7 linked regions of the Homo sapiens genome follow. The protein of the gene in region 1 interacts with the protein of each later gene in a pairwise test. Each region holds a gene or a part of one and is shown in the gene's direction. Other genes may lie near its edges. The genes, in order: TEPSIN, FLACC1, CTAG1B, PCDHB3, C1QTNF4, ZIC1 and PSMA6.

Region 1 (4,389 bases):
CAGGTACAGGGGCCGCGCACGCGCTCAGGAAGAGCCAGGGCTTTGGAGAATGGGGGAGGGTGGCGGATCCTCCAGGTTTGAGAAGGAAGACTTCAGCCAGAGCCCTCACCTGGGCCGGGTCCCGATCAAAGCCCCGCCTTGCTGATCCTGGCCCATCTCTGGCCTCTCCACCTGCTGCCCACCCTCACCCCAGCTGGCCGGCTCGGCCTCCCCTGACGCGCCCTGCCCCCTCCCTCCGCTGGGTCCTCCGTGCCTCCTATGCGTCCCTGGGCCTTTGGCTGCGTCTGTCCCTGCGCTTGCTGCCCCGGGTGCCAGTTTGTTTCTCTGTGTGCCCCACGGGTCTTCCCCCTCCATCCCAGTGCCCACACATAGCAGACTCAGTGCCTGTTCACACATCCTTCCCAGGCTGTGGGTTCCCCTTCTGGGGCTGCTCCTCGGAGCCCAAGACAGAGTGAGGCCATGGGAGGGCGGAGCTGGGAGGCAGGAGAGGCGGGGCCCCGGCCAGTCGGTCTGTCCAGGCAGAAGATGGGTCTGGGGGAGCTGTCCCCGCAGGCTTGGGGGCAGTCCCATGTGCCTCTGCCTAATGAGGACTTGTGGGGGCTTGGCCTGAGATCTTCCATGGGGTGGAGGGAGGCCTGGCTCCAGGTGGTCACTGGGCGCACCATGTCTGGACCCCACCCCAGCCCCTGAGTGGGGAATTCTGGGGAGGGAGACTGAGTCTGTCTCGTGCCACTGCTTGCTTGTGGAGACCTCAGGGTGTACCATCCACTGGGCTCACCCCAAAACCGGTGTCGAAACCAGTGTTGTCCCACTTTATGGCAAGTGGGCATGCAGCTCTAGGTGTTCCGCAGGGGCCAGTGCCCTGGGCCGCCATAGACAGTTGTGACACATGACTTAGGCAGTAGATGCCCCTGAGGGGACGGCAGTGCGGGGGTGCTCTCGCCATCCTCACAGAGCTCCTCACAGCTTTGGGGCCAAGGCAGCACCAGCCATTTATCCTCACCATTCAGCGGGCCAGAGGGCCCCGGGCTCCAGGCCACTCCCGTGGCTGTGGTTGGTGCATGTACGTCGTGGCCTCAGTGGTCTCGGGGACACGCCCTGGGGTGGGGGCTGCAGCAGGTAGGGGGATGGGGCACAGCAGGACCTGAGGATGGGAAAGGCTCTTCTTCAGACCCTGGGTTCTTGTCGGCACCAGAGTCTCTCCTGTGCAGAGGCAGCTATGGATGATGGCTGTTGCCTGCCGTGCCTGGACACTGGCCCTGGGTGACACACAGGCTGTGGGAGGTGTCAGGACAGGCCCTGTGAGGAAAGTGGGTGCCAGATGCCACACGTGAGAGACGGGGCGCCCTGCTCCAGGTGGTGGGTGTGCAGTGAGGATGGCCTGCCCCACGCGCGCAGAGCGTCAGAAAGAGGAAAGAAAACGCAGCTGGCAGTTACAGACAGATTTTCTTTAGTTAAAACCTGAGAGGCACCCCCAGCCGATTGCGGTCAGGAGCACTTTATCTTACAGACTGAATGTTGGTTTTAGGATGAGAGGGCTTATCAGAAGCTCGGAATGTTTATGTGTGTGGAGAAGTTTATGGCAGGGTTGGAAGGAGGGAAGGTTATCTTGGGGCAGGCATCTTTTCAGCCTGGAGGTGGGTTTTCTCGAAGCTGGCATCTTCCCGGCTGGAGAAGGGTTATCTTGGGGCTAGCATGTCTCTGGTTGGGGAGGAGTTTGGAATGTTTCTGGTTGGAGATGTTATTTGTGGTTCATGGTCGTGCTGACCTTAGCCATTAGGCTGATGCCCTATGGATTTAGGCAGTTTTTGGTTAAGGTGAACTTTAGAATGAGGGGCTTGTCCAAGATGGTGATGCTCCTGCTCTGTCACAGAGCAGGGGCAGCGTGGGGTGGCAGGTGGGTGCCCTGGGCTCCTGCAGGGAAGATGGCAGCCTCAGGGTGTCAGTTCATCCAGCCATTGACTCAGCTTGTGGCCGCCAGCCCTGGGCCCAGGGACAGCCAGGAGCATCGTCTCCGAATCACGGGACCAGCCTGCCAGGGTGGAGGTAGACGGCCGAGGGGCGTGAGTGGATTCGCCTGTGACAGAGGCTCTCGAGGGGTTCTCAGAGGCACAGCTCTCAGCCTGAGCCCTGAAAGGATGCCGCGGCCCCAGGTGTAGGCTTGGGGGGCCCTGGGGCCGGAAGATTTAAGGAAAGAAGCCCCAGTTCATCATGACAGGAACTCTCAGAGCAGGGGAGCTCGAGGCGGCTGAGACTGGGGTTGGGTGGGGCTAGGTGGAGCTTTCAGGCTGTGATAAGAACGCTGGTTTCTCCCTCCAGGCCCCGGAAGCCTCTGAGGGGTCCCTGGTGCACCTGGGGCAGGGAGAGTGGGCTTCGGGGAGGCCACACCCGCTCAGGCACCAGGGGTTGCCGACCCTGGGGGAGACGAGGTGGTTGCTGTGGAGAGAGTCTCGCCTCTGTGGGGCATGGGTGAGGGGGAGCTGAGGGTCTGCTCAGGTGTGGCCTCTGCAGGGTCCTGGAGGAGGGCATCCCATTGGCTGTGACAGAAGGGCCTTGGTGGCAGGAACTTGCCACCCTGGAGTGGGCCCAGGGCACCGTGCTCCACAGGGAGCAGCGGTGCCAGGCTCAGCCCTGCCCCCGACTTGCCTTTTCTGTTCTGCAGCTTTTGCAGGGCCCCCAGATCCTCTGCACGGGAACAGCTTGTACCAGAAGGTTCGCGCGGCCGCGCAGGTGAGCCCAGGAGCAGTGTCGCTCTGCGGGGTGCCCCTCCTCCTGTAGAGGGGTGGGATTGGGGCCAGGATGTCAGCTGGGGGGTTTGCAGTTCTCCCATCCGGGACCCCTGCCTCTGCTCCTTGCTGGTGGACACAGAGCCTGTGTCCAGCTGAGTGGCTCAGGAGAAGTGTCCGGGGGACAGAACGGAGCTGATATGGGTGGCAGGGTGAGTACAGCAGGCCCTGGTGTGAGGACACTGAGGGCCTTCGCCTCCCCCTGTAGGACTTGGGGAGCACCCTGTTCTCGGACACCGTGTTGCCGCTGGCTCCCTCCCAGCCTCTGGGGACCCCGCCTGCCACAGGTAGGTGACTGAGGGGACCGTGTCCAGCTCTGGCACCTGGTTTCTGCCTCCTTGAGTGTCCTGGGTGTCTGTGCCATCCGTGGGCAGGGCCGAGGGTGGGGGCCGGCTTGCTGCTAACGGAGGACCCTCTGCAGGCATGGGCTCCCAGGCCAGGCCGCACAGCACCCTCCAGGGTTTCGGCTACAGCAAGGAACACGGCCGCACGGGTGAGTGGGGAGGGCCTGCATGGGCTCTGGCATCTCAGGGTGTGGGGATGAGGAGGTGGTGGGGGCCGGACCATGCCGCCCCATCTAGTAGCTGCTGTCCCCCGTCCCCTCCCCTACATGGCCTCAACCCTTCCTGGGGCTGTCCCCACTGTCTCTCTCTGGCTGCTGACGTGGGGGTGGGGCAGGTGTGGCCAGGGCTGCTTTATGGACAGATGAGAGAAACCAGGCCGAGCAAGAAGTCAGGGCTGGGCCCCGTGGCAGGGGTGAGTCCCACTCTGAGAGGGGCCGAGGGCTGTGCCCCTGGCTGTGGTGCAGGTGACTCAGGCAGTCCCGTGTGGAGCTGTTATGAGGTGGGGCAGTACCAGTGGACAACTGCTCACCAGCGCCAGGAGAGCCACAGGTGGCACCACTGCCTGCGGCTGGGACCCAGCCCCCAGCCCAGCTGTGCCCTGCTGCCGGGCCCTGGGCGGTGTGTAGCTGCTCACCGTTAGGCTGTGTCACGCCGTCCTGCGCACAGCCTGGGGCTCCTGCCGACACTTTGGTGTCGGGGCAGCTTCTACAGGGAACTCACACAGGAAAGGCCGGCCCCTCCCCGAGCCCTGGACACACCCTCCCTGAGCCAAGGCCAAGCCCAAGCCCCTTAGGACACCTTCACCCCCAGAGGACAGAGGGACGGAGGCATAACTCTGCAGTGAGCTTTGGTGTCCAGGCCCACTGGGAGTGGGAATGCCAAAGCGGAGTCCACTGGGAGCTTCCAGAGGGCCTGGGGCCCACCAGGAGGCCTCCCTACCTGCAGCATGTACCCCGACCTCTCCAAGCTTGAGCAGGGAGCCGATGCGGGCACCCTGCTCCCAGAGAACGCGGGTGGGGGCCGCACTGGGCGGCCGTCCCATCTCCCTCTCCTCGGGTACAGGCTCGGCAGGCGAAGCCTTCCTCTCCACCATCCAGAAGGCCGCAGAGGTGGTGGCCAGCGCCATGCGCCCCGGGCCCGAGAGTCCCAGTACCCGGAGGCTCCTGCCGCGGGGTGACACCTACCAGCCTGCCATGATGCCTTCAGCCAGCCACGGTCCCCCAACCCTGGGGAACCTACTCCCCGGGGCCATTCCAGGT
Region 2 (4,389 bases), on another chromosome or scaffold:
TAGCTAACATCTTCATGGACAAAATAAAATTAATATTTTTGAATCACCTATGTGCCAGGCAAAATGCCAAGCACTTTACTCATATGAGCCATGTTGTCCAGGTGACAGGACCCTAAAGATTGGACTGTGTCACTCAGTAGTATTTCTCTGACATCTTTATCTGTAATTCCAAGAACTCAAGTTCTTCCACAAAGCTTAACTCATTTATTTCCAGGAGCTCTCCAAGTACCTCTGTGTGTGTGCAGTGACACTGTCCTCCTCACACTAGGGTGCACTTGTTGTTTTCTGTCTGGCCTTTGTGGTGCAATTAAGTTTCAGAGCTTGTGAGGCTCTCACTAACGACACCAGCGCACTTAATGTGCAGGGCTTACTCTCTGACTGTTAAAGCTGCCCACACATCAGAATCTGCAGATGTCATTTGACACTCTTTGTGATTCCTGAGGATTTCAGTGACACCTTTTTAGCTTTTACCATCTGTTTCATCTGGTGACTTCTTCCTCACCTCAAACAGGTGTGCCTGTTGGCCTGGCCTGGAGTGACAGCCAGTGCTGTGTTCAGAAATATCCTCCCCAGGGTTGTTGAACCCCACCCCATCTGTGAAGTTTTACTTCCCAGAAGGCAGCCTCTCACCCTCTGATATGCCCCAGATGTGTCTGAATCCTACAGTGACCCAGCTTATGACTCAGGCTGGGTCCTATCCTGAGACCACCCTCCTCCGCCTGCCAACTATTGATTCATTACCTTATTTATCTGAAAACACTGCCAGGTTTATGGTCTCCTTCTATAGAAAGGAAAATGAGACTCAGGGAAGTTAAACAATTTGCATACAATCTCTCAACTGAACAGTGGTAGATCATTGGACAAAATGAACATTTTAAGTCATAGGCACAGATCCTGCTGAAGACATATTTAGAGACTATTTCCATGAAGGGATCCTAGACTGTGTTACTGAAAATACTGCCACTTGTGAAGATGCTATTTGTTGTGTGGCCCTGTGGAAGGGAGTAGTGTTGGCTGACGCTGGGCTGTTCTCTGTCTGTCAGAGTGGCTCTGCTGACCACTTGTTGTGTGACACAGTCCCTGGCTTCTCCCCAGTAGTCAGAGAGGTACAAGGACAAGCCCTAAACCCTTGTCCTAGCTGACAGTGGTCACCGACTGATTTGAAGTATTGATTTATCCTGAGACACTGGCCAGAGGATCTGACATGTTAGAATGAAGTATCACCTGAAAGTGAGCAAATCCTGCCTGCTAGAATGGAACTATACTGTCAACAAGGATTAACACTAGATTTTAAGTTCCTCGAAGGCAAGATCTGAGTCTTAGTCCTCCTTGGCTCTTCCAAGCCAAGCCTTTTGTTCAATAAATGATTGCTCAATTGGATTACATATCCAAAAATCTGAAGGCCATGATGTAACAGAAATGACGATCTAGCACAGGAGACCAGACCTACCCAAAAAAAATAGTCAGTGAAAGAGATGCACCAACATTATGAACTGAATAAGTACAAAACAACATAGAGCAAGGCACAAATTGTTCTGTTCCCTTATTAATAATGTGCTCTCTGGCACTGCAGAGCACAGTGGAAGAGGGGTGGGAAGGGGGCTGTGCCCCATGAATTGGAAGGCGGCTGTGCCCCATAAATTGGAAGGCTTTTCAGAAGGTGCAGATCAGAATGGGACAGGGTCCTCAGTCCTGTGTTGTAGATGCTGATTTTGTTTCCAGCTCTCCAGTGAAATGGATCTCCGCTGTGCTGAGATGAAACAGAACTTTGAAAACAAGAACAGGTACACTTTCTGGCATGGACCCTTGTGTGTGTTGATGGCTCTAAGGGTCCCGCATCCTTTGCAGGATTTTAGTTCACTGGGACTTCAAATAGTTCTAAATGGAGTTGGGGGATGAAGGGTGGGGGAGATGAACAAGACACGTGTCTTTGAAGAGCAGAATGGCTTGATTCAAAGCCACTAAAATAAACCACAAAGAAAGTTATTACTGCTTTTACATTTTATCATCCAATCCTTTCATTTCAATTATAATCTCCCTTTTTGTTGGTTACTGAGAAGAGTCATTTTTGTTCTCTATGAGATTTCTGTGATAAATAACTGTTGTTCTCAGCCAAGGCTCCTCCTCCACCATCTCCTCGTTCTTCTCTTCCTCCTCCTCTTTTTCTTTGTCTCACCTCTACTCTCCCTGGCTGCTAGGTCAGGGCCTCAGCAAAATAGGAAGAAAGTATAAGAGAATCAGGAGCAAAGTCAAATCAAGAGAAAATTGAAAGGAGTCCAAATACAGAAAGACAGAGAATAGAACATGGTTACCATGGTCCGGTAGGAGGAAGAAAATGGGGAGATATTGATCAAATCATACAATGTTGCAAATATGTAGGGTGAACAAGTTTATATTGTTTACAAAGATATAATGTAAAAAATGAGAGCTATAGTTAATAATAATGTATGATATTAAGAACTGTTGCTAAATGAGTTTATAGCTGTTCTCACCACAGAGGGAAAATGGTTAACTAAGTGAAATGATGGATATGTTAATTTGTTCCACTCTAGTAAACTTTTTACTATATGTATATAGTAATCTCCACTATTATAACCATTTGTGTATATATATATATACATACATATAAACTCTACCTATATATATATGCTTGTGTAGTGTGAGTGTATATATATAGTAAAAATTATGTGTAATATATATAGTATAATGGTTACTATAGTAGAGATGCATATATATATGATTTATATATATATATATATATGAATCTTATGACATCATGTTGTATACCTCAAATATACACAATAAAATTTATTTTTAAAGGAGTTTTCTTATGTGTATGGGTGAAGATAATCCTACATCCCCTTTCAGGCTACTTGCTGCACACCAGAGCAGCCTTAGAAATCCTGGTGGAGAGATAGCACTCTTAGTTGAGTCATAGCCATTTACACATTTATTTATCTATAGACTTTATCTGTTAGAGCAGTTTTAGGTTTACAGCAAAAATGAGGAGAAAGTACAGAGAGTTCCTGTGCACCTGCTCCTAATCAAATTCAATCAAATTAAACTCAAAGATGAGTACACCAAGACACATAATAATCAAACTATCAAAAATCAAAGACAAAGCAAAAATTCTGAGAGCATCAGAAGGTAAGAAACACGTCACATACAAAGGAGTGCCAATACAATTGTAATTTCTTAACAGAAACCCTGCAGGCCAGGAGTCAGTGTGATGATGTATTAAAAGTGCTGAAGGAAAAAACTGCCTACCAAGAATACCTTAGCAAAGCTGTCTTCCCCAGTTGAGGGAGAAATAGAAACTTTCCCAAACAAAAATTAAGGGAGTTCATTACCACTATGCCTGCCTTACAGAAATTGCAAAAGGAAGTTTTAAAAACGGAAACAGAAAGCTGCTAATAACATGAAACATATGAATGCACAACACTCAATGGTATAAGCAAAATAGAGCCATACTCAGAATACTTTAGGACTGTGATGATGGGATGTAAGACAATTTTATCCCAATATGAGAGTAAAAACACAAAACTATTAATAACAACTATAGCTAAAATAAATTTTCAATGATAAATCATATTATAAAATGATATCAATTCTGACATCAAAAACAAAATGTTAGGGAGGGAGTAAAACTGTTGAGTTATTGCTTGCAACTAAACTTGTTGTCAGCTTGAAATAGCTTATTACAAGAACAAGATATTCTAACTAAGTGTCATGGTAACCACAAAGATAAAAATCTTTAGCAGTAGCACAACACAAAAATAGAAATGATTCAAAGCATACACTACAAAAAACATCAAACCACAAAAGAAGAGACCAAGAGAGGAAGAAAGAATCTACAAAACAACAAAACAAAAATTAACAAAATGGCAGTAGTAAGTTCTTACCTATTAATAATTACCTTGAATGTAAATGGATTAAATTCTCTGATTAAAAAAAATAGAATGCGTGAATGGATTTTTTAAAAACAAGAACCAACTATACGCTGCCTACAAGAGACTCATGTCACCTGTAAGGCACATGAGCACTCCTCCCAGGGTCTGAGATTAAGCCCACTCAACCTGCCGCTACCACCATTGCTGGCACCTATCTGCATGCACCACCTATGGGCCTGAGGACAAGACCACCCAACTTCTCATAGCCATTGCCAATACCAGTGAGTACCACTTGGGTGCTAGAGGGTTGTCCCACTATTGCTACTGCCATCAGCCACAACACACCCACTGCCAATGGGTCCGTGAACCTACCTACCTGCCCAGCCCATAGCTGCCATTCCTGACACCTGAAAAAAACACTAAAAGGCCCAAGAATTGGCCTGCCTGAACCCACTAATACTTAATGCCAGCATATGCCACCCTGGGGCCCAAAGATAGG
Region 3 (4,309 bases), on another chromosome or scaffold:
CCCTCTACGGTGCTATCAAACACTAGAACTTAATCCTTCTATGCAACTATATGTTTGTCCCCATTAACCTCCCCACCCTCCCCACCTTTCCCAGCGTCTGGTAACCATCATTCTGCTCTACCTCCAAAAGATCAACGTTTTTAGTTTCCACATGAGTGCCAATATGCTTTTCCCAGGTGCAGAGGCTGCTGATTCCTGGATTTGGAAGGTGGGGGAGAGTGGTTTGGATTTCAGTACCTCCCCCTTCCTCAGGGCTAGGCCCTGTCTGGTCACCTCCTGTTGCTACAGGTGTGCCTGGCACAGACATTCAGCTCCCGGGGCCGTGCCGCCCTCACCCCTGCATGCCTCTAGAGGTACCTGTCCCGTGGATTTGACCCCCTTCCAGACACACAAATAGATCACCACTGAGCAGACACAGGGTCACCTCCCAGCTCCCTACCAGGCAAGAGCGACCAGGGCAGGGACTGATACTGCCGAACCCAGGAGCCAGGCCCGACCCAGCCTCAGGTCCAGCAGGTCCCGCCTGTCCACCTGGGCCAGGCCTAGAGCCCGGGAGCCCCTGGCTGGTGGGAGGCCACCCGCAACCCACCCCACACGCAGCTCCAGCTCCCCCACCAGGCGGGGCGACTAGGACAGGGACAGAACCCGTTGAACCCAGGAGTGAGATCCGGCCCCGGGTCCCGCTGGGCCCTCCCGTCCACCTTGGCTGGACCTGGCGCCTGGGAGACCTTGGCTGGCGCGAGGCCACGCCCACCAGACATGCAGTTCCAGCTACCCCACCAGCTGGGCGACCAGGACAGGGACGGAGGCTGCTGAGCCCAGTTAGAGGCCTGCCCCCCGGGGTCTGTCCTGGGCGCTCCCCCAAGGACGGACAGGGCAGGCAGGGTCCGGGACGATGGCCGCACAGTCCCGGCCCCGTGTTCCCAGGCCCGTCTTGCTCCTCGATGTGAGGGAGACCCGGGGGATGGGACAGGCTGGGCCCCGCAGTGCCTGACTCCCTGCAGGGCTCCCGGGACAGGGGTCCGGCGGACAGCCGGCTGCTCAGGGGTGAGGGGTCCAAGCTGGCATTGCGGCCACCTTCCGGCCCGGGCTCTCTTGGGGAGGGGCGGGGTTGGTGAGAACCGGTCACGTGCTCCGGGGCTCACTCGGGGTCTCCCAGGGCCGGAAGTAGGGCCCCTGTGCGCAGGCGCCCTGAGGATCCCGGGCTGCCCATCTCACGCCAGGGGGCGGAACTTCCTGCAGCCTCTCTGCCTCCGCATCCTCGTGGGCCCTGACCTTCTCTCTGAGAGCCGGGCAGAGGCTCCGGAGCCATGCAGGCCGAAGGCCGGGGCACAGGGGGTTCGACGGGCGATGCTGATGGCCCAGGAGGCCCTGGCATTCCTGATGGCCCAGGGGGCAATGCTGGCGGCCCAGGAGAGGCGGGTGCCACGGGCGGCAGAGGTCCCCGGGGCGCAGGGGCAGCAAGGGCCTCGGGGCCGGGAGGAGGCGCCCCGCGGGGTCCGCATGGCGGCGCGGCTTCAGGGCTGAATGGATGCTGCAGATGCGGGGCCAGGGGGCCGGAGAGCCGCCTGCTTGAGTTGTATTCTGTTCTGTTCTGTTCTGTTCTGTTCTGACAGTTCTGGTGGCGAGGTGGGGGCCGGGAGATGGGGAGGGCAGGGCCAGGTGGGGGAGGAGGCGGGGGAGATGCGAGTAAGTGGTTGGGTGGGGGTGGGGGTGGGGGTTGGGAGGTGGGGATATGAGAGGCCAGCTGCGAGGAGGGGAGGAGGTAAGGGCTGGGAGGTAGAGGGGGTGGGGGTGGGGGAGAGGGGCTGGGTGATTGGGTGAGGGGCACCGGGTCATGCGGGGAGGGGAGCAGGGGCCAGGAGATAGGGGGACCCAGGTGTAGGAGGGGATCAGGAGGTGGGGGGAAGGGGGCAAGATGGGAGCGGGTGGCGGGAGGTGGTTGGGATGGAGGGTCGAGTGATGAGGAGGGGGCCGGGTGATGCCACAGGGGGCAGGGTGGGGAGGGGTCTTGTAAGGGCATGGAGGAGTCAGCTTGGGGTGCAGCAAAGGAAAGTGGGGAACCAAGACAGCTGGGTGGGGTGTGCTACTGGGCCAGTGCCTGGGGAGACAGCCTGGGGGGGATGGGCTGGGCAATCCGGGGTAGGGGGGAGGGGTGGGGGAGTGGGGGAGGGGGAAGCTGGCCTGGGGTAAGCAGCAGGCCGGAGCCACAGGCCAAGTCCTAGGAGAGGATGCCTTAACTGGGCCCCCACCAGCTACCTCGCCATGCCTTTCGCGACACCCATGGAAGCAGAGCTGGCCCGCAGGAGCCTGGCCCAGGATGCCCCACCGCTTCCCGTGCCAGGGGTGCTTCTGAAGGAGTTCACTGTGTCCGGCAACATACTGACTATGTCAGTTCAGGACCAGGACAGGGATGGGGCCTGGGTGGGTGGCGGTCACAGCGTGGCAGGGTGGGGGCTGGGATCCGCCTACACCCCACGGTCAGGCTGCTAGAAACCTGGGAACACCCCAGCACAGGGTCTCAGAACAGAGACCTGGTACACCAGGCCCGCCGCCACCCGAGGGAGCCCAGGGAGATGGGTGCAGAGGTGTCGCCTTTAACGTGATGTTCTCTGCCCCTCACATTTAGCCGACTGACTGCTGCAGACCACCGCCAACTGCAGCTCTCCATCAGCTCCTGTCTCCAGCAGCTTTCCCTGTTGATGTGGATCACGCAGTGCTTTCTGCCCGTGTTTTTGGCTCAGCCTCCCTCAGGGCAGAGGCGCTAAGCCCAGCCTGGCGCCCCTTCCTAGGTCATGCCTCCTCCCCTAGGGAATGGTCCCAGCACGAGTGGCCAGTTCATTGTGGGGGCCTGATTGTTTGTCGCTGGAGGAGGACGGCTTACATGTTTGTTTCTGTAGAAAATAAAACTGAGCTACGATTCCGTGTCTGAGTCTCTTTTCGGCGAGCGAAGGCACCTTCGGACTTGCATGCCCTTGTCCTCGGGTTGCAGGGGAGGCTCTGGGATTCACAGATTGAAGTAGCACAAGGTAACGGGAGGCAATTTGGGAAATGGGGGAAAATGAAAAGCCACTGGGTCCCGCCATTCAGCATTAACTACTGTGGACATTTTAGAATATTTTCCTCAATATACTTGCATTTATATGTTAAATATATGACAGTAGCATATATAATGTTTTTCCAGGTCAGCATTAAATTTTTTCCCAAATTGTTTTCATTGAACATATGAGCTTTTTTACTTGGGAAAAATTCTTTGAAAACGTACTTGAATAGATGCATAGAACCAGCATTATCATATCACTGTTAAGCATGTGATATGGGTTGGGCATGGTGGCCCACACCTGTATTTCCAGCGCTGTGGGAGGCTTGAAGCGGGAGGATGGCTTGAGACCTGCAGTTGGAGGCCACCCTGGGCAATGTAGCGAGATTCTGTCTGTAGAAAAATCATTAAAAGGCCGGGTGCGGTGGCTCATGCCTGTAATCCCAGCACTTTGGGAGGCCGAGGCGGGCGGATCACCTGAGGTCAGGAGTTGGAGACCAGCCTGGCCAACATAGTGAAACTCCATCTCTACTAAAAATACACACACAAAAAAAACAACAACAAAAAAACATTAGCCAGGCGTGGTGGTGTGCGCCTGTGATCCCAGCTACTTGGGAGGCTGAGGCAGGAGAATCACGTGAACCTGGAAGGTGGAGGTTGCAGTGAGCCGAGATGGTGCCACTGCACCCCAGCCTGGGCAACAGAACAAGACTCTGTCTCAAAAAAAAAAAAAAAAAAGAAAGAAAAGAAAAGAAAAAATTAGCAGGGTGTGGTGGTGTGTGCCTGTGATCCCAGCTACTTGGGAGGTTGAGGTAGGAGAATCACTTGAACCCAGGAGGTGGAGGGTGCAGGGAGCCGAGATCATGCCACTGCACTCCAGCCAGGTTGACAGAAAAAGACTCTGTCAAAAAAAAAATTTTTCTTTAAATTAGGTGGGTGTGGTGGCAGGCACCTGTAGTCCCAGTTACTCAGGAGGCTGAGGTGTGAGGTGGAAGGATGTGTTGAGTCCAGGAGCTGGATGCTGCAGTGAGCTATGAATGCACCCCTGAGCTCCAGCCTGGGTGACAGAGTGAGACCCTGCCTCTAAAATAATGATAATAGTAATTCAAATAATCTAAAATCTTTGTGAACATGTAATATAACCAAAACACAGGTTCATTCCCTCATCGCTTGGAGATCCAATTAACAAGAGCGTGGTCTGCTATAAAGAAACGGACTTTCTGCCATGCTTGATTTAGGGGAAGACGTACAGGCTCCTGCCTTTAAGGG
Region 4 (4,830 bases), on another chromosome or scaffold:
CCTTCAACATATTTTTACTTTTTCTCTTAATGCTTAAATTGAGCCTCCTTTCCTGTCCACTGGCTTAAGGAATACAGATGGCTTTTAATTTTATTACTTAAATTTCCTTCCATAGTTCCCTAAATGACTCACCCAACTGTTTTCATTTCTTGCAGTTTACTTTCTGATCCATACATTAAAACAAATCTTAATTCTTAATGTTACTCAGTCTATCTTTATATTTTTATATCATTTTTACATACATTTGAATGAGCTATCCTATTAAAATTTTAATATTAACTTTGAAGGTCTTGTTTTGAGATTAGCAATGGTGTAGAGCGCTGTGTTGGTATCAAAAGTCTCTGATCAACCAACTCATTACCTGTAGGATTTTGGATGAGTCACAAAGTTTCTTTTCTTCTACCCAAATGATAGCAGGTATTTGAATAGCTTGCAGTTATACTCAATATAAAGACATAAAAGTGAAATTGCTGTTATTTTTAGTATCACTAGTATTAAGAGCAAACATTCTTGATAATTGTGTAGAAGTACAAAAGCGGCTACATTGAACACATATTTGCACTGTTTTATTTCTGTACCAACAACCTTGCAATGGCTTCCTTTTGTTCTTAGAATAATAAAATCCAAGCGCCCATTATTTGGCCTTGGTTTACCTTTTCAGCCTTCCTTTCCACTTACTCTTGAGACATTAAGTTTTGTATTCACTGTACTTCATTCATTATCTATTAATAGCTATGCTTTGCTCTCTCAGGGCCTTCACACATTCTACAGTCTTAGCCTGGCACACTTCTCCTATTTCATGTTTCAGATTAAATGGTGCACCTTGGGGGAAACTTTCTTAATCACTCTCCATTAAGTTAGGTCCCCGTATTGCATACTTTCAGTGCACTCAGTACCTTTTCTATGTAGCACTTTTCACACTGTTTAAACATCTGTTTAAAGACTGTACACCCACTAGATGGAAAATTGTTGTAAGATATACAGACATTGTCTTGTTACCACCACTTGCCTAACTTCTACAAACTCAACAATTATCTGTGGAAATAAACTAATACAGATGAAATGAATAATTGTAAATTTGCTCTGAAATAAGAAGAGAAAGCACTTTAAGTGTTCCTTGAGCATGATAATCTGGAAGAAATTAGGTATTTGTAGTCCTCTGGATCCACCTCTGACATGATATATTTTCTTTTTTACCACCTTGCAGGAGGTGTCTTTTCCTTGTGTTTTTCTGGTATATGCAATTCGGGCTCATTTCACAAAGTTTAGGAAAAAAAGAAAAACATAAATAGGATAGTGAAGCATGCTATCATCTAGAGCAAAAATCTTTTGAAGTTTGTGTGTAATTATTACAAAAGGGGAGGGGTAAACTAGTATGTGTACACTTCCGTTAAATCGTGTAAATGAGGACTCTACCAGGAAGAATCGCTGCTCGTAGATAAAAGTGCATTTTATTTCCCTAGATTGCATTTATTTAATTCATATAACATGAGAAACTCCTCCAGTAGCGTCAACTAGGGTTGATAAGAATAATCGATAAAGCAAAATAAAAACACCTTCTCCAAGATTTTGTAACTGCAAGCGAACGCATGGTGGCGCTGTTGACTAAGAAGGCGAATTAAACCACAGGCATTGTGCATGCTCGGTGACGCACGGATCCAGTGTGGTAAACCAGCGGTTGAGAGCCCAGGCAGATTTTTGAGCCAGCAAGTCTGAGCCTCTGGAAAGGCTTATTCACTAGGCCGTCTACAAAGGTTGTGGGGCAAAAGACTGTTTCCCAGCTCTGTCTGAGGTTCAGCTTGGCGACATTCCCTGGAAGAGCGTGACGGAAAGTGCAATGGAGGCGGGAGGAGAGCGATTTCTTAGACAAAGGCAAGTCTTGCTTCTCTTTGTTTTTCTGGGAGGGTCTCTGGCTGGGTCCGAGTCAAGACGCTATTCTGTGGCTGAGGAAAAAGAGAAGGGCTTTTTAATAGCCAACCTAGCAAAGGATCTGGGACTAAGGGTAGAGGAACTGGCCGCGAGGGGGGCCCAAGTTGTGTCCAAAGGGAACAAACAGCATTTTCAGCTCAGTCATCAGACAGGTGATTTGCTCCTGAATGAGAAATTGGACCGGGAGGAGCTATGCGGCCCCACAGAACCATGCATACTACATTTTCAGATATTACTGCAAAACCCTTTGCAATTCGTTACAAACGAGCTCCGTATCATAGATGTAAATGACCATTCTCCGGTATTCTTTGAAAATGAAATGCATCTGAAAATCCTAGAAAGCACTCTGCCAGGAACAGTAATTCCTTTGGGAAATGCTGAGGACTTGGATGTGGGAAGAAACAGCCTCCAAAACTACACTATCACTCCGAATTCCCACTTCCACGTACTCACTCGCAGTCGTAGGGACGGAAGGAAGTACCCGGAACTAGTACTGGATAAAGCGCTCGATCCGGAGGAGCAGCCGGAACTCAGCTTAACGCTCACCGCGCTGGACGGCGGCTCTCCCCCTCGGTCTGGGACAGCCCAGATAAACATCCAGGTCTTAGATATAAACGACAATGCACCAGAATTTGCACAGCCGCTCTATGAGGTTGCAGTTCTAGAGAATACCCCCGTTAACTCTGTCATTGTCACTGTCTCGGCTTCTGACTTAGATACAGGAAGTTTTGGGACAATATCATATGCATTTTTTCATGCTTCTGAAGAAATTCGCAAAACTTTTCAGCTAAATCCAATTACTGGTGATATGCAACTGGTCAAATATTTGAATTTTGAAGCGATTAATAGTTATGAAGTCGACATCGAGGCCAAGGATGGCGGAGGCCTATCCGGAAAGTCTACAGTCATAGTCCAGGTGGTTGATGTCAACGACAACCCACCGGAACTGACCTTGTCTTCAGTAAACAGCCCTATTCCTGAGAACTCGGGAGAGACTGTACTGGCTGTTTTCAGTGTTTCTGATCTAGACTCTGGAGACAACGGAAGAGTGATGTGTTCCATTGAGAACAATCTCCCCTTCTTCCTGAAACCATCTGTAGAGAATTTTTACACCCTAGTGTCAGAAGGCGCGCTGGACAGAGAGACCAGATCCGAGTACAACATTACCATCACTATCACTGACCTGGGGACACCCAGGCTGAAAACCAAGTACAACATAACCGTGCTGGTCTCCGACGTCAATGACAACGCCCCCGCCTTCACCCAAATCTCCTACACCCTGTTCGTCCGCGAGAACAACAGCCCCGCCCTGCACATCGGCAGTGTCAGCGCCACAGACAGAGACTCAGGCACCAACGCCCAGGTAACCTACTCGCTGCTGCCGCCCCAGGACCCGCACCTGCCCCTCTCTTCCCTGGTCTCCATCAACGCGGACAACGGCCACCTGTTTGCCCTCAGGTCGCTGGACTACGAGGCCCTGCAGGCGTTCGAGTTCCGCGTGGGCGCCACAGACCGTGGCTCCCCGGCTTTGAGCAGCGAGGCGCTGGTGCGCGTGCTGGTGCTGGACGCCAACGACAACTCGCCCTTCGTGCTGTACCCGCTGCAGAACGGCTCCGCGCCCTGCACCGAGCTGGTGCCCCGGGCGGCTGAGCCGGGCTACCTGGTGACCAAGGTGGTGGCGGTGGACGGCGACTCGGGCCAGAACGCCTGGCTGTCGTACCAGCTGCTCAAGGCCACGGAGCCCGGGCTGTTCGGCGTGTGGGCGCACAATGGCGAAGTGCGCACCGCCAGGCTGCTGAGCGAGCGCGACGCGGCCAAGCACAGGCTGGTGGTGCTGGTCAAGGACAATGGCGAGCCTCCGCGCTCGGCCACCGCCACGCTGCATGTGCTCCTGGTGGACGGCTTCTCCCAGCCCTACCTGCCTCTCCCGGAGGCGGCACCGGCCCAGGCCCAGGCCGACTTGCTCACCGTCTACCTGGTGGTGGCATTGGCCTCGGTGTCTTCGCTCTTCCTCTTTTCGGTGCTCCTGTTCGTGGCGGTGCGGCTGTGCAGGAGGAGCAGGGCGGCCTCGGTGGGTCGCTGCTCGGTGCCCGAGGGCCCCTTTCCAGGGCAGATGGTGGACGTGAGCGGCACCGGGACCCTGTCCCAGAGCTACCAGTACGAGGTGTGTCTGACTGGAGGCTCCGGGACAAATGAGTTCAAGTTCCTGAAGCCAATTATCCCCAACTTCGTTGCTCAGGGTGCAGAGAGGGTTAGCGAGGCAAATCCCAGTTTCAGGAAGAGCTTTGAATTCAGTTAAGTGTTAATAAGGATCTACTGAGCCTCGTCTTAGTTAATCTGTGGAAAGTCCTTTTTTACTGCTTTGTCCATTGGAGAGGTCTTTTTTGGTCTGGTTCAAGGCAAGTAGCAAGAATAGAGCAAAATATCAAATCCAGGGATGGCTTAGGTTTCATTAACAGTACTGGAAAGTAGTTGTGTGGCTCTGAATGTTTTGTATTTCAATCGAGAATCCTTAGTCGATAGAACATTTTGTTTATATATTGATTCTACTTTTTCTGTAGTTAATCCTTGCATATTCTCCTTTCATCCTGGCTTGCCAACGCAGTCTTAATTCCGCCTTTTTTTTTTCTAATGGGGAGCAAAAAGAAATTCACTGTCTTTTAATAGTGATTTCAAATAGCTTATTAAAATAACTCCATTCAAATTTTACATTATAAAGCAATGTAGAGAGAGTTCCAAACCACCAATTTTATAATTTCCCTTGTTGAATATATTCATATAATGTGTTCTATAATATGCCCAAAGCAGCTTTGTCTATAGTTAACAAAGTTTTAAGGATAGACAAGAATGTGTTTTCTTTAATAAATAGTAATATATCATCTTTTTAGGGATATAGTACTC
Region 5 (5,052 bases), on another chromosome or scaffold:
TGTCATCTGCCCCAGCCACCCATCTCTACCTCAACCCTCACTTCTCTGGTGAGAACTCTTGTGGATCCAGGGAGTGTCAAATCCCAGCCTGAACCAAACCTCAACTGAGATTATATTATCCTATAATATACCTTCTCCCCTCCCCTCCCCTCCCACCATTGGAATCACCCTCAGGAGAGCAGCTCCACTCTTCTCATCCAGAAGGGGCCCATGGCCCTAAGAAGGGCCATAGATTGCCATAGGTTGGCTTTTGGCATCCCCCAGCTCTCCTTCGACATCCCTGTGTGGCTCATCCCACCCTTACCCTGCTTCTTGTCCTCCCCACAGTCCTGTGGCCCAAGCTTTTCAAGTTGGTGAAAGAGACAGTTGTGATCTGACAAGGGCTAGACAGGTGCTTCACCCTCTGTCACCAAATACCCTCATTATCCAGCCCAAAACACCTCCATTCATTCCTTTCTATTCTGGCACATATTCGTTAATTCATTCCATCATTCACCTAACACCCTTGAAGCAGAGCCAATCACCTCTACCAACATCTTCCTAGAGACAAATAGATTAACTGGGGTGGGGTAAACTTTGAGAGCTCCAAAAGGAAAGCTCCAGAGGACGGGGGTTCTGCAGGGGTCCAGGCCTCTCAGGGACCACAGAGCAGACCTGCAGCAGAGGCAGAATTAGAGCCCATGGCTCTGGAGTCAACCAGGGCCAGGCAGAGGGCACCAGCTCTTGGCTGCTGAAAGTAGAGCTCTTCAAAAGTCATCCACTCAGTCAGCATCTACTGAGTGCCAGGCAGTGTCGTCACCTCTACAGCCGTCAGGGGAGAGAACAGCAGCCTAGAGAAAGGGAGTCTGAGCCCCCATCCCACGGGCTCGAAGCCCAGAGTAGAGGCCAGCACTAGTGCCTCTGGTGAGTATTACCATGGGAAGACCGCTGTTCCCAGCCCGGGTGCCCTGCTGGACTCTTGCTAGCCTGGCCCCAGCGAGGCAGGGCATCAGTTTCCCTCTCCAGAGGCCTTTCTTCCCCACCTATTGCCCTCTCAATCCTGTCCCTTCTTGCAGGAGCAACCTTCCCAGCAGAAAATTCCATTCTGCCCCAAGGACTCTCCTCCTTACTGCCCCTCACCCCGGGGAACGCAGGCTGCCCCTCTGATGCCTGCAGACTCCCTTCTCCCTCTTTCCTAACCGACCGTGGGCATTTTCCAATTTGGAGGTGAGGAGGAAAAACTAGGTTATTTTCAGCTCTTCCTTTACTGGCAACATTGACCCATTTATCCTTCTCTTCCTTCAGACCTCTCCCCCAAGGCCACTTAGCTTGGACATCTGTCCCAGCCAAAATCTCACCTTCCACTGTCCTTGCAGCCCAAAGGCTAGTCCAGCCTCTGAGTCCAGCTCTAGCCCTCTCTCCCCACACTAGGAAGGAAGCTGGACTGTAGAGCGCTCTGGGCCACCCCGCGTTAGCTGCTGCCTCTGGCCTCAGTTTCCCCAACTGCTCAGATTAATGATGCCTGCTCTCTAGACCCAGAGGACGAAGCTCTAAGGAGGTCACAGATGAGGAAGGGTCCAGTGCTCGGCGCAGACTCCGTGCGGAGCCCCTAGGCCCCGCAGCTCGCCCCTCCCTCTCCCCTACTCCCCTCCTCTCCCCCTCCCGTCTCTCCCCCGCCTCTTCGCTCTCGCTCGGCTCCCTCTCTAGCTGACCTTCCCTTTCCCTCACGCCTCCCCACGCCCGGCCCCTGGCCCCAGCACCCTGTCCGCTGCCGCCTCAGAGCCGGGAAAAGCAGCCGGAGCCCCCGCCGCCCCTGCCGCAGCGCGGGCGGTCAGCGCGCAGCCCGGCACCCGCAGCCTGCAGCCTGCAGCCCGCAGCCCGCAGCCCGGAGCCAGATCGCGGGCTCAGACCGAACCCGACTCGACCGCCGCCCCCAGCCAGGTGAGGGCAGCTGAGGGGAGGCAGGGAGCCGAGGTTCCCCCTTTACTGGAAGCGAGGGCTGGGGAGGCGCGGGGAAATTGGGTCCTTTTTCCTTGAAAGGAGGACCTGGGAGCCTTTTCGTGAAACAGGCACAAGGGCTTTCATTCCAAAGGGATGGATGGATGGAGGGAAGGTCTCGGGGGAGAGGGATTGGTTTTTGTTTTTTAAAAATAAGGATTAATTGGCTTCTGTGAAAGTGGGACTTCTTGGAAGGATGAGGGGCTTTCAAGGTAGGTTGGGGAGGGGGCTCTGGCAGGGCTTGAGGGAAGGGTTAACTGGTGAGTGGCAGGGCAAGGGGGAACTCTGCGATCCCCTCAGCCTGACATCGCTGCACCTCCCGCCTTGGCTCCGGGGCTCTGGGTCTCTCCAGCTCTGTGTCCCAGTTTTTCTCTTTGAAGATGACTATTTTGAACCCCACCTGGACAGAGCCAGGAACAGCCATTTCCTTCCCTGGAGCTATGACACCCACCTGACACACCCTCCCACACCTCTGACCTGCTCAGGGAAGGGGGTTCAGGGAAGGACGAGGATCCAGGGATCTGGGAATTGGGCAGTGTGGGTGAAACGGAGGCTGGGTACTGGGTGCACAGGAAGACCCTTGGCACTGGTGGGGTGCACCAGCCTTGGTCAGGAGGTTGCTGGGCAGCTGCTTCTGGGGCAGGACCCACTAGGAAAGCAGCGGTATGGAAAAGCTGAGCTGTTTTCCGTGTTCCCAGAAGACAAAACACTAGAGAATGTGTTTGCTTGCTTTTGTTTGGTTTTGCTTTCTGTCTTCCTCACCCTGGATCCCAAGACTCATTCCTCTGATCTCCTCTCCTAGTTTTGCAAAAAGGTAAACTGAGGCACAGAACAAATTGGCTGGACATACCTGTGTCTAGGAGGGAAGAGTGACAGGAAGGCATACGGAATTTGAGTCAAAAAACCTCAGTGCTCCATGGGTGACCTTGGGCCAAAATGCTTTCCCTTGTTGGGCCTCAGCTTTCTCATCTATAAAATGGGAGACGGCCCACCTGTCTTGTAGGTTTGCCAAGACCATGTGTCTAAAAGAACTTTGTAAAAGGGAATGCACTGGACACTTGTGAGGTGCCATCTTCACCACTGTGGATGGCCCCTTCCCTCCTCCCTGTCCTAACCAAGGGACACCTAACTAATCCATAGGACACCTTTGTGAGAATTACAAAAAGCACCTCCTCTGGAAGGAGACAGCATTCAGTTGGCTAGCAACTTGGGGTCTTTAGTATGAGAATGAGAAGGTGGCATACTTTACGCCAGGTGCTGCTCTAACATGTGGAGTGTGAGCTAGATTCTAGCTGGGACGTTCTGCACATCTACACCTGACAACCCTTCTCAGCAGGTCCCTGCTGTCTCTAAGAGACACAGAGCTACACATACAGGGCATTTTCTAAAGCAGCCCACATCCCAGGCTGTCTCCAGCTCATTTCTTTCCTGTTTTGTTTCCACATCAGGGCTTTTGGGTATTCAAGCCCCAAAGCACGTGCCCTACTAGGAAGCAGGATGGAATCCCTACATCAGAGAGTGACTCCTTTGAGTTAAGCAGTGCCTTCACCAAGCTCTCAGGGGTAGGAGTGACTGAGTCCCTAAACCCTTACGTCAAGAACTGGACCAGATCACTTTTGTCAGGGCAACCGACAGAAGCATCTGCACACCTCAGCACTGCCGTTGACAAACCATGTTCACACCTATCTCAGCACACCCCCACAGCAAGCCTGTGTGTGAGGTCTCTTCCCCATTTACATGGAGGAAGCCATGCCCAGAGAAGTTAGGGAACCTGCCCAAGGTTTCACAGTGTGAGTGGTAGAGCCAGGACCTGAACCCAGATCTGGCTATCTGTCCTCTCCAATCCATCACTCCCAAGGAACAAAGCTGCTGACTTCACAGCCTTGCCAAAGCCCTGCTGGAATTGTTGCTGTCCCTGTCCATCCCCAGTAGCCCCTGGCTCGCCACTCCTTCTTCTGAGTAACCAGCCTCCAAGCAAAGAGAAAGGAGTCACCTTCTCTTTTACTCTGATTTCAAGGGGGAGGAAGCTACCTCAAAGCCCAACTGTTCTCGCCTCCTCTGTGCAGGAAGGGCCCCTGGTGAGGCCAGGAAAGGGGTCAGGGAGCAGCGATTTCCTTTCCTGCTCAGATGGGGCTTAAACAGTAACGGTCATGCAGAGCGTTGACACAGAGAGCCAGTGCCTGCGTGAGTGGCAGACCAAGGACCATAAAATAACCACAGGAAAATGCAGCCAACTGGAGCTGAGGGGAACTCAGAGACTCCCCTGAATCCCCCGGGTTACCAGGGCCCCTGAGTGTCAAATGGGAGGTGTAGGGGCAAGCCCAGCAGACAGGGCTGTAGGCCTCTTTAACCAGAGTGTTTCTGCTAGTCTGTGTTCAAGCTTTCACTTAAGAAAGGGGTTTCGGCCGGGCGCGGTGGCTCACGCCTGTAATCCCAGCACTTTGGGAGGCCGAGGCAGGCGGATCACAAGGTCAAGAGATCAAGACCATCCTGGCCAACATGGTGAAACCCTGTCTCTACTAAAAATACAAAAATTAGCTGGGTGTGCTGGGTGCAAGCCTGTAGTCCCAGCTACTTGGGAGGCTGAGGCGGGAGAATCGCTTGAACCTGGGAGGTGGAGGCTGCAGTGAGCCGAGATCAAGCCACTGCACTCCAGCCTGGCGACACAGCCAGACTCCGTCTCAAAAAAAAAAGGGGGGGGGGCGGGGTTTCAAGGCCAGGCGCGATGGCTCACGCCTGTAATCCCAGCACTTTGGGAGGCTGAGGCAGGTGGATCACTTGAGGTCAGTTCAAGACCAGCCTGGCCAACATGGTGAAACCCCGTCTCTACTAAAGATACAAAAAATTAGCTGGGCGTGATGGTGCGCACCTGTAATGTCAGCTACTCAGGAGGCTAAGGCAGGAGAACTGCTTGAACCCGGGAGGTGGAGGTTGCAGTGAAACGAGATCGTGCCACTACACTCCAGCCTGGTTCACAGAGCGAGACTCCATCTCAAAACAAACAAACAAAACAAAGAAATGCAAATTATCAGGCCCATCACAGACCTACTGAATGAACTCTGGTGATGGGGCCCA
Region 6 (3,317 bases), on another chromosome or scaffold:
CTCCGTGATTGTGGTAGGAATTTCTTCTTCACCCACCAGCAACCTGCTGCCTCTTCTGCCAGTCTTAAAGGGTCTCCAGAAAAGCTCTCCAGTCTCCCTTGCCTTCCCTTTCTGTCACTGCAGGTCGTATAAACGTGATAAATGAATGCTACCCTGCTGGCTCTCCGAGAGAGTGTAATTAGTATTTATATCAAAATTTATGAAACAAATTTTCGGCCGCAGTATAATTTAAATGACCTTTGCAGATGTAGAATAACAACCATAAAAATAACAGGAATAGATTGCACAGGCGACATCAATATTAATGTAGACGAATTGTCAGAAGCTCAGGGGCTCGCTCTGCAACATTGCAAATGAACTTGCAGCCGAGGGTTCCGCTGCCCCCTAGATTAAATTCCCCGGGCTGAAACTGAGTTGCAGATTTACAATATCATATTTTAAATTGCTGTCTTCAATTAAACCATTTATGACCATAACTAATTTTCAGGATGTCGATGCATGCTTTTCCAGGCCTTCCTTCTTTGTACAAAAGTAAATGTCCATAAAGCGTTTCACTTATATTCTTCAAACATGATGCTAATTTAAATTAATTACTTCCTATGATATGTTATTATTCCTATGATTTTGCCACTGTTATTAGTTCTCTCAAAAATACATCTAGGGAAGAGGATTATTTTAAGTAATTTGATTATCTTTCTATCTCTTTTATTTATTTCTCATTTACTTAAGAAATTCGTTCCATTGGTTGGCATTGATACAGTAAATTTGTAAATGAGGAGACAATATAAAAAATCTAAATTACTTGTGCTTAATGACTGTAGCAGAATGCCTTTTCTCTAAATCAGATTGTCTTTCTTGCAGTTTAGTTTGATAGATTTGCAAGCTATGCTGCTTCCATGAAGTTAGCTGCGCTGGTAGGAACGCAGGCTTCTTTGTCTCTGGTTGTAGCTTGCATGATCGCCCCATTAGGCAGACAACGTAGCCGGAGATCACAAATCAGGCCCTTGGCTGTAGTTGCTAGTGTGTGGAGGTGCAGAGCAGGTGGCAGAAACTGACCTCACTGGGCAAGGGTGGCCATGGACCTGATTCTTTAATGCACTCTATGTGTTCAGGAAGCCACAGGCCATATTTGACTCTGAGAAAGAAAACAAGAGGAAAAACCCCACAAAGTATAACAACCCCTTAAGATACATCTATTTTAAAGTGAAATTAATTTTTCAGTTTATACCATTGGCCAATTACAAGATAAAAATGTTCAATTTCTTTAAGAATCCTTTGTTGACTTGTCTTTTCATCTCTTGCTATTTATATTTGTCACTGTTTCAACAAAGTCTTATTTGCTGAGGAAGGACTTTGCTGCACTTACTGTACCACATCAAACACTGGGGAGGGTGGTGTTTAACTTTTTAAAAAATGTTATTCTGATTATAACAATAATATTGGCTTTTTTCATGAAAAGAGCGCCACCTTGCAAGGTTTAGTGAGATTTATGGAAGTTGAATACCTAAGCAGGAATTGCTGCTAGCTCCAAAAATTTGCGAAGCAAAAGCTAGCCCCAATTGGTTTGGAAGTTTGAAACTGATTAACAGATTTGCATTTGAAGTGACTCCAGACATTAGGTCCAGACATTAGTTAAAAATAGAAAGAGGAATAAAGACATCTCTTCTCTCTAGAAAAGATAACACCACAATTAATAATCCTTCCCACTTTCATTGAGATCAGCTTGTCTGATAACCTGATATGAGTGTGATAATGATAAACATGATAATAGTGGTACTTTTGTAATTTTGCTGGTGCATTTAAGAAGATAGTAAATGATGAGTTCATCTTTTCTTCGAACATTCCTATTCCTAGATGTAGTTTACCTCAAATTGGGAATTATAACTGTCTAATTTTTGTTGTGTACCTGATGCCCCTTTTGCTTTAATACCACAGTGTAACAATTAAATATCACACTATGACATATGATTTAAGTAGGATATTTTAAAGATAAATTTTAGGGGTAAATGTTTACTTCAAAATGACTCCATATTTCAAATATCTGTTTAGACTGTGAAGGCCAAATAATTTTTAAGAAAACATTTGAAGAGTAGTGTGTTTGCATTTGTGAATAATCTTACTCACAGCAAGTAAACGTAATAAAAGCCAACATTTAAGCCAACCCTCCTGTGCATTCTCTTTTCCAACACCTATCACAAAGAAAAAGTCATTAATGATGTAGGTGGCCTAAAATAATCCTTCGAAGTTAAATGTAGTCTATTATTTTGCTGGTACCTTTAATATCTGCTTCTTGAGATGTATTCTTCATACTTTTTTTCATGGGCTATTAGGTTTTGAAATACATAAATGTGAACAGCAAAATATATTGTTAGACTCTCTTTAGCAGGAGCTGAAGATGCTGCAAATAGCTGTTTCCTGTGTGTAGCTTTAGATTCTGACTTAGGTAGAATGCTGTCCTGGTTCATTTTGCAATTGCATTGTATTCTGAATACTATCAAATGATTAGAACAGCTAACAAGTTATTAAAAAGTTATGTTGTGTCAACAGAAAATGCCTGAGTACAAGCAATCATATTTGAGAAATGAAGAGAAATGAGTTGTGGTATGTGTGTGTGTGCATTTGTAGAGCAAGCATATAAATATACAAGCACCATTTATATGGGGGCTAAGTAATTTCAAACATTTCAGATCCTTTGTTTTCTTCTTCAAAAGCTACCCCCAACTGCTTTAAGCGTTTGCAGCTGATGATTTTGATTTTTTAAAGTCAAGCATTCAAGTTAACCTTTAAAAAGCAAACCACCTCCAAAAGAAAGATGTAACCTTTCAATTGCCCCATCTGCTTATCTTTTTTTTTTCTTTCTTTCTTATTTTTTTTTTTTCCTGACAATGAAAGTAGCACTAACCTTCTTTGCTGATAGGCCTGGCATTTAGATGCTTTTATTGTGAAGTTTTCTCAGAACTTTTAAAGGGCTGGCCAGAGAATTATACCCTCAAGTACCTCACCTAGCCCCAAAAGCTTCCAGAAGTTTTCTTTTTGAGGCCAACATTAAATCAGTGTCTAGGACCCCTTGTGAGTCGGTGCTGTTGGAGTTGTTACCTGAGCATACTGCTTTTCAGGAAGTGAGTTGGAGAAGGCCCTAGACCTTAAAGAGAAGATTTAGTTTAAGATGTTATGAGGAGTTACTGCAGGTGGTCTGGCACACTCAAAATAAAGGAACTTGTGCCCTTGGCTGTGGACTAGATATAAAGACATCAGCTCTTACACATTCCCAAGTTACATTTCTTTTCTTTTTCCAACTTATAATACCGATTACAAAT
Region 7 (4,389 bases), on another chromosome or scaffold:
AGACTAGTATCAATATTTTAAGAGTATTGTGAGCTTTTTTGAAATTATACCTATAATAGAATTAGATGCTTATGCTGCTGTCGGAGAAACTGGGCTGAGGGCCCTTTCATAGATGATTTTATCTTATTTCAGCTATAGTTAGTAGTTTAAGGGGACCTAACTCAGTATATCTCAAACCTGGTAATAATGGCATCGGTTAGAAGTGAGTGAGAATTATTATGAAAATTATTTTAGGTTGGGCACAGTGGCTCACAGTTGTAATCCCAGCACTTTGGGAGGCCAAGGTGAGAGGATTGTTTAAGACCAAGAGTTCAAAACCAGCCTGGGCAACATGGTGAGACTCCATCTCTATAACAAATTTAGAAATTAGCTAGGGGCTGGTCACGGTGGCTCACACCTGTAATCCCAGCACTTTGGGAGGCCGAGGCAGGCGGATCACTTGAGGTCAGGAATTCGAGATCAGCCTGGCCAGCGTGGTGAAACTCCATCTCTACCAAAAATACAAAAATTAGCTGGGCATGGTGGCGCACGCACACCTGTAATCCCAGCTATTCAGGAGGGTGAGGCAGGAGAATTGCTTGAACTCGGGAGGCAGAGGTTGCAGTGAGCTGAGATTGTACTACTGCACTCCAGCCTCGGCAACAGAGTGAGACTGTCTCAAAAAATAAAAACAAAAATACCAAAAAACTTAACCAGCTATGGTGGCAGGTGCCTGTAATCCCAACTACTCAGGAGGCTGAGGCAGGAGAATCGCTTGAACCCGGGAGGTAGAGGTTGCAGTGAGCCAAGATCATGAGACTGTACTGCAGCCTGGGCAACGGAGCAAGACTCCATTTGAAGAAGAAAAAAAAATTAGCTGGTATGGTGGCACATACCTGTAGTCCTAGCTACTCAGGAGGCTGAGGTAGGAGGATCACTTGAGCCAAGGAATTCAAGGCTGCAGTGAGCTATGATGGCTCACTGGGTGCCAGTCCAAGACCCCATCTCTAAAAAAAAAATGAAAAACTAATTTAAGCCTAAAAACAAAGATTAAGAAAGATTATTCTCTCTCAAGGCCTTTTTTTTTTTTTTTGGAGACAGAGTCTCACTTTGTCGCCCAGGCTGCTCCGCCTCCTGGGTTCAAGCAATTCTCGTGCCTCAACCTCCCAGGTAGCTGGGACTACAGGCATGCACCACCACGTGCAGCTAATTTTATGTTTTTAGTAGAGACAGGATTTAGCCATGTTGGCCAGGCTGGTCTCAAACTCCTGGCCTCAAGTGATCCGCCTCTCTTGGCCTCCCAAAGTGTTGAGCCACCATGCCCTGCCTCCTTAATGCTTTTTCTTTTGGGAGTTACTGGATACTTGCAGAAACTATTTTGACTGCTGATGAAAGGCTCAGTATAAAAGGGGAGTACTGTGTAGAGAGCTTCATGTTTTTAAATTTTTTTCATATACTTGTTGATGAGTTATTTAGTATTCATTGGGGGAGAAAAAGCCGTAGCGGACCCTTTCTCTTTAACTCATGTATGTCTATATGGTGGGAAAATTGCCTGGCTAAATTGCCTGGCTTTCAGGTTTGTTCTTTCCTTCTAACCAGGTAAATCTTTGTTTTTTATGCTATAAGCTGACAGCAGATCCCAGGTACAGAGGGCACGCTATGAGGCAGCTAACTGGAAATACAAGTATGGCTATGAGATTCCTGTGGACATGCTGTGTAAAAGAATTGCCGATATTTCTCAGGTCTACACACAGAATGCTGAAATGAGGCCTCTTGGTTGTTGTAAGTATGCTAAGAGGTCTCCCAAATAATTGATGAATTGAAACTTTTTACAGAACATGTATACAGAATTATTTAAATAACACTTGAGTTCTGAACATGTGGTTTGGAAAATACATAGAGTGGGAAAATCTTTATAATAAATCAGAACTAAAGGATAGGTTTCACAACAGTATGTCGGGCATTATCTTTAAGCTTTAGATGCTGTTAGACTTTTTATCAAAGTATTTCCATTTGGTGTATGTGATTTGAAAGATGCAAGTCCTCATTATTAGGATGTTGTAATGAGGTTCTACTGCAATTCGAGATTACTAATTCCATAGAAATACCTGCATCAGGCATCTTAATAATGTAGCTGTTTGTTTTGACCACCCTAAAGAATTAGGGTCACACACAGGTGTGTAATTCACATTTTTAGAATAAATTTCTATTTTTGAAAACAAGTAAAATTGTATTGGGAGAGGGATGAGATTTACTGATTTTTAGATGTGATGTAATAAATTAGCCTGAAAAATTCAGTGCATGTTTGTTTCTGACATTGTGTCATTCATTTATGAGCATTAAAGCAGTCAGTGTAATGATTTCTGTTTAGCATCTGACCCTCTTGACTTCTCACTTAAAAATTACTTAAATCATATTCATCTTGCAAGACCTTGAAGGAAAGAAGTATTTGTTGTTTCCCCAAGCAGTAAGTGGGTACTTTTTTGTGTTGCCCTTATATTTTGTATATATCAAATATAAGAAAGCAGTCAAACCATTAAGTACTTTGTTACCTGTTCTACTGAGTAGAAAGAAATTTAATGATGGTGTTTATTTTAATTGTATTCCTATAATATGGTAACATTAGAATTGTAGTAACAAAGTTACATGTATAGAATTTAGAGCTTGGTTTGTGTGACTTACTAGAGGAGTATATACCAACAGTAATGAAGATGGGCAGTGTAAAGGTGAGCAGGTAGCCTGTAAGTGTATTTCAGTTTGTGCCAGCATTCCCAAAGTGTGTCCCATACACTGTTCCCTGGAACCTTAATAGGTATTTCTATTTTAAAAAAAAAGTATTTCTTGGTCAAACAAACAGAAGAACTACTGAGTTAAAGTTAAATAGGTCAATCTACAACAGAATATTTCACAGCATTTAATATGCTATTATTTATTATCTGTTTCCAGAAAAGGTATATGAAAGTGTTTTTGGGCCAGGCACAGTGGTGCACACTTATAATCCCAGCACTTTGGGAGGCCGAGGCAGGAGGATCACTTGAACCCAGGAGTTCAAGACCACCCTGGGCAACAGCGAGTCCTCGTCTCCTAAAAAAAAAAAAAAAAAAAAAGGTTGGCCAGATGCAGTGGCTCACGCCTGTAATCCCAGCACTTTGGGAGGACGAGGCAGGTGGATCACAAGGTCAGGAGATCAAGACCAGTCCTGGCTAACACGGCGAAACCCGGTCTCTACTAAAAACACAAAAAATTAGCTGGGCGTGGTGGTGGGCACCTGTAGTCCCAGCTACTCGGGAGGCTGAGGCAGGAGAATGGCGTGAACCCGGGAGGAGGAGCTTGCAGTGAGCCGAGATCGTGCCACTGCACTCCAGCCTGGGAGACAGAGCGAGAGTCTGTCTCAAAAAAAAAAAAAAAAAAAAAAAAAAGTGTTTTTGAAGTTTATTTGACCAGGCAACATCTTGAAGGATTAGGGTTCAAATAAACATGCTTGGATAACAGCAAGGATTGGAAACACTATTTTTAAATTGTATTTGTAATTATTCAAACTATTTTTTTTAATCTGTGATAAATCCTTTTGTGAAATGGGAATTTACCTGTTACCTAATTTACCTGTGGTGATAACCTGTATTTTATCAGTTTTCTTAAAGGAAAATACATATCCTAAAATTGATGGCCAAAGTCATGATTAGCAGCAGCTATGTGACACCACCAAGAAAGAGGAGATGTCATTGTATAAAGCTAAAACATTTAATTAGGGTCTTTTCTCTTTTTAGGTATGATTTTAATTGGTATAGATGAAGAGCAAGGCCCTCAGGTATATAAGTGTGATCCTGCAGGTTACTACTGTGGGTTTAAAGCCACTGCAGCGGGAGTTAAACAAACTGAGTCAACCAGCTTCCTTGAAAAAAAAGTGAAGAAGAAATTTGATTGGACATTTGAACAGACAGTGGAAGTAAGTCAACCAAAAGGAGCTGACTTTTTTTATGCTATATAGAACAGTGAGGATCTTTGTATAATTTCTATACAAAGCTATTCCTGAATTACATCCCAGGATTCAAGTTGTCAACTTAATAATGAAATTGATATCATACAGCTGACATAGGAAAATTTGAGTTGCTTTTATTCACTTAATTCCTTATTTCGTAATGTATTTGAGGTGGCTTTCAACAAAACGCATATAATAGGAAAATATAAATAAAAATAGGAACCAGCTGGGCATGGTGGCACACACCTGTAGTCCCAGCTACTTGAGAGGCTGAAGCTGGAGGACTGCTTGAGTCTAGGTGTTCGAGGCCAGTCCTATTTACTGCCAAGAAATTAAAAACAAAAATTTTAGTAGATTTTGGGTGTAAGTCTGGAATTAAAGCCATTCTGAAGATGCTAACAACATGCTTCTGATAAGTGACCAAAAAAAAA

The links.
Region 2: the proteins of TEPSIN (region 1) and FLACC1 interact in binary tests that used the Homo sapiens proteins (3 or more experiments, as listed by UniProt).
Region 3: the proteins of TEPSIN (region 1) and CTAG1B interact in binary tests that used the Homo sapiens proteins (3 or more experiments, as listed by UniProt).
Region 4: the proteins of TEPSIN (region 1) and PCDHB3 interact in binary tests that used the Homo sapiens proteins (3 or more experiments, as listed by UniProt).
Region 5: the proteins of TEPSIN (region 1) and C1QTNF4 interact in binary tests that used the Homo sapiens proteins (3 or more experiments, as listed by UniProt).
Region 6: the proteins of TEPSIN (region 1) and ZIC1 interact in binary tests that used the Homo sapiens proteins (3 or more experiments, as listed by UniProt).
Region 7: the proteins of TEPSIN (region 1) and PSMA6 interact in binary tests that used the Homo sapiens proteins (3 or more experiments, as listed by UniProt).

The regions. Positions count from the first base shown.
Region 1 is NC_000017.11:81,232,322-81,236,710, reverse strand, and holds part of TEPSIN (AP-4 complex accessory subunit tepsin), read left to right. Parts: coding exon 1-3; intron 4-1,427; exon of another isoform or gene 1,428-2,662; coding exon 2,663-2,730; exon of another isoform or gene 2,731-2,772; intron 2,773-2,994; coding exon 2,995-3,073; intron 3,074-3,109; exon of another isoform or gene 3,110-3,207; coding exon 3,208-3,279; intron 3,280-4,192; coding exon 4,193-4,389. UniProt on the Homo sapiens protein: Associates with the adapter-like complex 4 (AP-4) and may therefore play a role in vesicular trafficking of proteins at the trans-Golgi network.
Region 2 is NC_000002.12:201,339,765-201,344,153, reverse strand, and holds part of FLACC1 (flagellum-associated coiled-coil domain-containing protein 1), read left to right. Parts: intron 1-1,722; coding exon 1,723-1,784; intron 1,785-4,389.
Region 3 is NC_000023.11:154,616,220-154,620,528, reverse strand, and holds CTAG1B (cancer/testis antigen 1), read left to right. Parts: upstream 1-1,246; 5' UTR 1,247-1,310; coding exon 1,311-1,579; intron 1,580-2,255; coding exon 2,256-2,390; intron 2,391-2,629; coding exon 2,630-2,768; 3' UTR 2,769-2,920; downstream 2,921-4,309.
Region 4 is NC_000005.10:141,098,813-141,103,642, forward strand, and holds the start of PCDHB3 (protocadherin beta-3 precursor), read left to right. Parts: upstream 1-1,660; 5' UTR 1,661-1,837; coding exon 1,838-4,228; 3' UTR 4,229-4,830. UniProt on the Homo sapiens protein: Potential calcium-dependent cell-adhesion protein. May be involved in the establishment and maintenance of specific neuronal connections in the brain.
Region 5 is NC_000011.10:47,591,016-47,596,067, reverse strand, and holds the start of C1QTNF4 (complement C1q tumor necrosis factor-related protein 4 precursor), read left to right. Parts: upstream 1-1,656; 5' UTR 1,657-1,920; intron 1,921-5,052. UniProt on the Homo sapiens protein: May be involved in the regulation of the inflammatory network. Its role as pro- or anti-inflammatory seems to be context dependent. Seems to have some role in regulating food intake and energy balance when administered in the brain.
Region 6 is NC_000003.12:147,414,559-147,417,875, forward strand, and holds the end of ZIC1 (zinc finger protein ZIC 1), read left to right. Parts: 3' UTR 1-2,161; downstream 2,162-3,317. UniProt on the Homo sapiens protein: Acts as a transcriptional activator. Involved in neurogenesis. Plays important roles in the early stage of organogenesis of the CNS, as well as during dorsal spinal cord development and maturation of the cerebellum.
Region 7 is NC_000014.9:35,309,135-35,313,523, forward strand, and holds part of PSMA6 (proteasome subunit alpha type-6), read left to right. Parts: intron 1-1,605; coding exon 1,606-1,761; intron 1,762-3,746; coding exon 3,747-3,925; intron 3,926-4,389. UniProt on the Homo sapiens protein: Component of the 20S core proteasome complex involved in the proteolytic degradation of most intracellular proteins. This complex plays numerous essential roles within the cell by associating with different regulatory particles.